2 linked regions of the Homo sapiens genome follow. The protein of the gene in region 1 interacts with the protein of each later gene in a pairwise test. Each region holds a gene or a part of one and is shown in the gene's direction. Other genes may lie near its edges.

The links.
Region 2: the proteins of UBL7 (region 1) and MYBPH interact in a two-hybrid assay, tested with the Homo sapiens proteins (one large-scale study listed by BioGRID and IntAct).

Annotation. Positions count from the first base shown.
Region 1 is NC_000015.10:74,448,319-74,451,160, reverse strand, and holds part of UBL7 (ubiquitin-like protein 7), read left to right. Parts: intron 1-301; coding exon 302-359; intron 360-1,091; coding exon 1,092-1,225; intron 1,226-1,485; coding exon 1,486-1,535; intron 1,536-1,807; coding exon 1,808-1,975; intron 1,976-2,560; coding exon 2,561-2,683; intron 2,684-2,842.
Region 2 is NC_000001.11:203,170,069-203,172,826, reverse strand, and holds part of MYBPH (myosin-binding protein H), read left to right. Parts: intron 1-786; coding exon 787-875; intron 876-1,248; coding exon 1,249-1,444; intron 1,445-1,626; coding exon 1,627-1,766; intron 1,767-2,376; coding exon 2,377-2,536; intron 2,537-2,758. UniProt on the Homo sapiens protein: Binds to myosin; probably involved in interaction with thick myofilaments in the A-band.

The DNA of each region.
Region 1 (2,842 bases):
CTGCACACCCTGAGTAAGGGAAGAACCCAGAGATACGGGAGAAAGAGACAGGTGTCTTGGTACCCAGTCTGTGATGTGACTAAAGTGCAGGGGAGGTGGAGAGCAGGGGACCATCCTCACTAGACCAAGATGAGGAGTACCTGAATTGTATTGCTTGGCGCTTTGCTTCCTCTACTTCTCATGAAGATTGGCTTGTTGTCCTGTGTCCCTGTTGAGCTGGTTGCTCTGAGACGCAAAGCCTCTTCTCCCTCCTGGATCTGGCTGATTTCCTTTCTTTGAGGTGAGCTCTGCTCTTTTTCAGGGGTTCTCCAGGACAAGGACCTCTTCTCTGTCTTCGCTGATCCCAATATGCTTGATACGTAAGTGTACCTGTCCTATTAGAGGGTACCTTCTCTCTCCTCGTGCTCAGGCCAGAAGCCTAATTGTCACCCTGCAGTCTGCTCTGGGAGCCCATCCATAGTCTGTCACCAAGTCTACCCCTTAGATACGTCAGGGGGTGAGAAAGAGCAAAGCCCAAGAGCAGGGCTTTTGTCAAGAGTGCTGGGAGGAAGCAGGATTCTGAGGGAAAGGGTCTTGTCTGCCAGGCTCAGTTTAGGTTTCGTGTGGTAGAAATTAGGGAGCTTTTCAAGGATTTTAAGCTGGCAAAAGGAGAAGCAGGTGTACAGATCCGTAAAGTGTCAAAGCTAAAAGGGACATGTCCTCATTTTGCAAGTGAAGAAAACAGCCCCACCCTGGGAAGAGAAGGGACCAGTCCAGGGTTGCCTGATGTAGTAGTGGTGCCTAGACCAGACACTCCTCATGTGCTCAGGCCAGAACCCTGAGCCTCCCAGGCTGCACCTTTCCCATCATGCCTTGCCTGTGGAGAGGGTGAAGAATCTGCAGCGGACCCCAGGAATTTGAAGGCCTTGCACCCGTTGCTGGGGGCAGATCAGCAGGAGGATAAAGCTTCCTGGTGGAAGATGCTAAAGACTGAGGAATTTGAGAGCAGGCACAGGTGGCTGCATTGTTGTGAGGGGGCACCCAGAACTCCTGTTATGGCTGAGGGTGCTCTTTTGGAGTCACCCTTGGGTTTCTTCCTGCTTCTATCCTAGGTTGGTGCCTGCTCACCCAGCCCTCGTCAATGCCATTGTCCTGGTTCTGCACTCCGTAGCAGGCAGTGCCCCAATGCCTGGGACTGACTCCTCTTCCCGGAGCATGCCCTCCAGCTCATACCGGGATATGCCAGGTGAGCGCCTGAAAAGTGTAATGTGGGCCCCTCAGGAGCCGGCAGTGGCCCAGGAATTTGCTTTACTCAGCAGCTATGTATAGCGTTGGCAGAGGGCGTTCCTTGGGAACTCTCGGTTTGAGTCAGGAAGTGCATCTGTCCTGTAATTTTCCGAGGGGAGAGATGAAAATATGAATTTGGAGAGTAACTTGAGCTGAGATTCTGGAGCTGCGCCTGTGCCTTTCTGTTCTTCCTCCTGAAATCTGTTCGTCCTCCTCCAGGTGGCTTCCTGTTTGAAGGGCTCTCAGATGATGAGGATGACTTTCACCCAGTAAGTGGCCTGCCTGCCTGCCTGACATGCTGACATGTGGGGGAGATGGTGCTGGGAATGAGCTGCATCCTGGGACCTGGCACTCCCAAGGCTGGGAGATGGACATACGCCATTGGGGGGCCAAGACCATGTCATACTATTTCTGCTTTTGGATTCCTTTCTGAACCTGGGAACTTAAGAGTTTCCCCAAGAACTATTGCTGGAGGTGGGTGGAGTTCATCTGGGAGTTTCACAGTACTGCTTCCCTGATTCTGAGTGTCTTCTTTCTCCAGAACACCAGGTCCACACCCTCTAGCAGTACTCCCAGCTCCCGCCCAGCCTCCCTGGGGTACAGTGGAGCTGCTGGGCCCCGGCCCATCACCCAGAGTGAGCTGGCCACCGCCTTGGCCCTGGCCAGCACTCCGGAGAGCAGCTCTCACACACCGACTCCTGGCACCCAGGTATGAAGACGGGGCCGGGAAGATCAAGGCTGGGCCCCCAAGGAACAAGCTCCCCAGCAGTAGAGTAGATTTGCCTTTGCTGACCCTGGTGCTAGATCTAGTTTAAGCTGAACCCTGGAGTCCTGGTGGGGATTTCTTACTGCAGCTTGAGTGACCTCCCCTTCACTTGCCTTGAGGACTCAGAAGTCTAGATTTTAACATGGTCCCGTGTAGTCCCCCCTATTAGTTCAGAAGACTCTTCCTGCACACAATATGCCCTTCCTCATCCCTGACAGGGAGCAGACATCACCAGCTTAAGCATTTCTGGGTGACAAGTCACTTCAGCTTTCAAGGCCATCTCTCCCAGTGCTGCAGTGCTGGGGTCCTAGGCTGGGACAAGGGGCTCAGTGCAGAAGAGAATGGAACCTTTCCTGCCCACATAGAGAGCTTCTAGTTACCTTTGTTTGGTTGTCTTATGGCAGGTCTTTGTTGGGAGGCAGAAGTTGGGTACCTCAGGAGTGCTGTGAGGTGATATGACAACAGCGAGCATCTGCTATAAGATTGAGATGGCGCTGAGGGTGGCACTGACCACTAATTTGTCTCTAGGGTCATTCCTCAGGGACCTCACCAATGTCCTCTGGTGTCCAGTCAGGGACGCCCATCACCAATGATCTCTTCAGCCAAGCCCTACAGCATGCCCTTCAGGCCTCTGGGCAGCCCAGCCTTCAGGTCAGTCTTCCCCACGTCTTGGTTTCCATGTGGCTTCCTTGTTATTTTGGATGCCCAGCCTTTGTTTTGCTCTCTGGCGGTCCTTCACACCTGGCATGCTTCATTCTAGGAACAGCTGGAGCATGGCAGTGGGACAGGTGCAGAGTGTTCCTAGCAAGG
Region 2 (2,758 bases), on another chromosome or scaffold:
CTGAGGAGCCTCAGTCATGGACCCAGCACCCACCCCAGGGGACAGGGATGGTGGCCACTGCAGCTTCCCTTAGAATGCCCAGGGGCTTCAGTGGTTGCCCCTGACCAGATGAGGGTCAGAATGTCATTCCTTAGCATAGCAGGCAGCTGAAATAGGACTTCAAGAAGGACTTCCCGGCTCTGAGACTAACAGATTTTGGGAGGGTGACAGAGGAAGAAGGGGGGATACCCGCCCTGGCTTCACTTGGGAAGAGAAAGATCCTAAACCTTTCAATAGGGCCTGGAGACAGAGGAATGGACAAACAGGGTTTCACAAAGGCTTCTCTGAAAGTCCTGGGCTTGTGGAGAGCTGGGGATATTAGAGCAGGAAGACGGCAGTGGCCTCCCCTTCCTAGAAGTGCAGCCTGACAGGTGCAGCACCTGCTCCCCAGCAGGGGGAGACAGAGAGTCAGCTGGGGCCCATCTGGTGCTTGGGAATGCCTGGGCTGCAGGACAAATCCCATCCTGGCAGAGTCGAGGCGCCAAGGGAGTGCCCAGGATGCTTACCAGTTCACACCATGGAGGCGCTGACCTCCTGAAACCTCCTGCTCCCTTAAGGGATTTGGGCCCCTAGACCTCAGGAGTGAGAGCTTCACCCTTCCTGCAAGGAGGGACCCCATGGCAGCCAGGCACACCCAGGACCCTCCTCCCAGCCAGCATCCCTCACCAGCTGTCCCCTGCCCCATCTCAGAAACCCCAATCAGCCACCCCACTGCACTGCTAAGCCCAGACTCTTGCTTTGATCCAGAGGCCCCCAAGATCCGTGTCCCCCGCCACCTCCGTCAGACCTACATCCGCCAGGTGGGAGAGACGGTCAACCTGCAAATCCCCTTCCAGGTGGGTATTACCCCCACCAAGGGTAACAGCCTGGGTGGGAACCAGGGCCCCCATTTAAGGGGAGCCTGGGAGATGGCAGGGTCTCCAAGGGTCCAGCTGAGACCCAGCGAGACGGCTTCATCCTTCCGCAATCATGCACATGACTCATTGGTGATTCTCAGCCTGTGGATGGGCAGGTGGGCCCCCAGAGCGGGATGGACACCTGGAAGATGTGGCTGTGGGCAGCACCTGTGGCTCCAGCCTCTGCTGCCCCTCCTGAGAAGGGCCAGTGGGACAGGCTTCCCCGAGAACAGCTCCAGAGACTCCTGGAGTTAAGGAGGTGTGGGGACTCTGGCACCTCCCTACACTCACCCTGGGGGCTCCTCCCTGCCAGGGGAAGCCTAAGCCTCAGGCCACATGGACCCACAACGGCCATGCCCTGGACAGCCAGCGGGTGAGCATGCGCACCGGGGACCAGGACTCCATCCTCTTCATTCGCTCGGCCCAGCGCTCCGACTCTGGCCGCTACGAGCTCACTGTGCGCGTGGAAGACCTGGAGGCCAAGGCAGTCATTGACATCCTGGTGATTGGTATGGAGCCAGGGGAACAGTGCTGTCTCATGGGGGACCTGGAGCCCCCAACCTCCTATCCCAGAGCTGATGGCTGATGGGAGCAGGCCAAGGGAGTGTGGCAAGAGCCAAATTTTGGGTGTGGGGGCTCTGTGGCCAGCCTGGCCCTCACACTCACTTCCTCTCACACTCTGGGCCTACAGAGAAACCTGGACCCCCCAGCAGCATCAGGCTCCTGGACGTCTGGGGCTGCAATGCTGCTCTTCAGTGGACGCCACCCCAGGACACAGGCAACACAGAGCTCCTGGGCTACATGGTGCAGAAGGCAGACAAAAAGACAGGGGTGAGGCTGGCTGAGGCAAAGTGGGGTCGGGGTACGAAGTGGTCAAGGTGGTGGGGAAGGCCCATCCCACTGAGTCTAGGGACCGAGTCTAGGGATCGAGTTCTGGTCTGCCCACTGCTAACCTGACTCCCTAGGAGGCCCTTAGCAAGACTCTTCCTCTCTGGACCTCAGATGCCTCCTGAAGACTGTGAAGAGGGCTGGCCCGGGCTGTCTGAAGCCTTTCAAGTTCTGGAGCCATGCTTCTCAAATCTTAATGTCCACATGAGTCACCTGGGGAGCTTGCTAAGAGGCAGAGTCTGACTCAGTAGGTCCAGGGTGGGGGCTGAGGGCCTGCATTTCTAAGACGTTTCCAGGTGATGCTGAAGTTGCACATCCATGGGCCACACTTTGCACACAAAGGCTCTAGGATTCTCTGAGGACCCTACAGAGGTCACCTGAGTGACCCAGGGGCCCCTTCTTCCAATTCAATGTCCCTGAGGCCCAAAGCTGGATGGTTCAGCATCCTAAGGTTGGGGGCATGGAATGAGTTCCTGTGAGGAAAGGTCTCCAGGGTAAGCAGGGAGGGTGAGGACAGGGGTGAGAAATGAGGGTGACACCCGGGGCCCTGCAGCAATGGTTCACAGTGCTGGAGCGCTACCACCCAACCACCTGCACCATCTCTGACCTCATCATCGGCAACTCGTACTCCTTCCGGGTCTTCTCAGAAAACCTGTGTGGACTCAGCACCTCGGCCACCGTCACCAAGGAGCTCGCCCACATCCAGAAGGCAGGTGGGTTTGGGCCCGGAGCTGGCTGTGCTAACTCTCTCCCTGTCTCTGCTTCTTCCTCCGCGTCTCTGCACCCCTCTCTCTGGGTTTCTCCTGGGCGTCTGCCCCTGGAACACTTGCCGTCTCCTCACTCCACGGCTATGCATACACACACATGGAGTGGCTGCAAAGTAGTGAATGTGGTTGGCTGATTTTAACAAACACATCAGAGCAAATCCACACAAA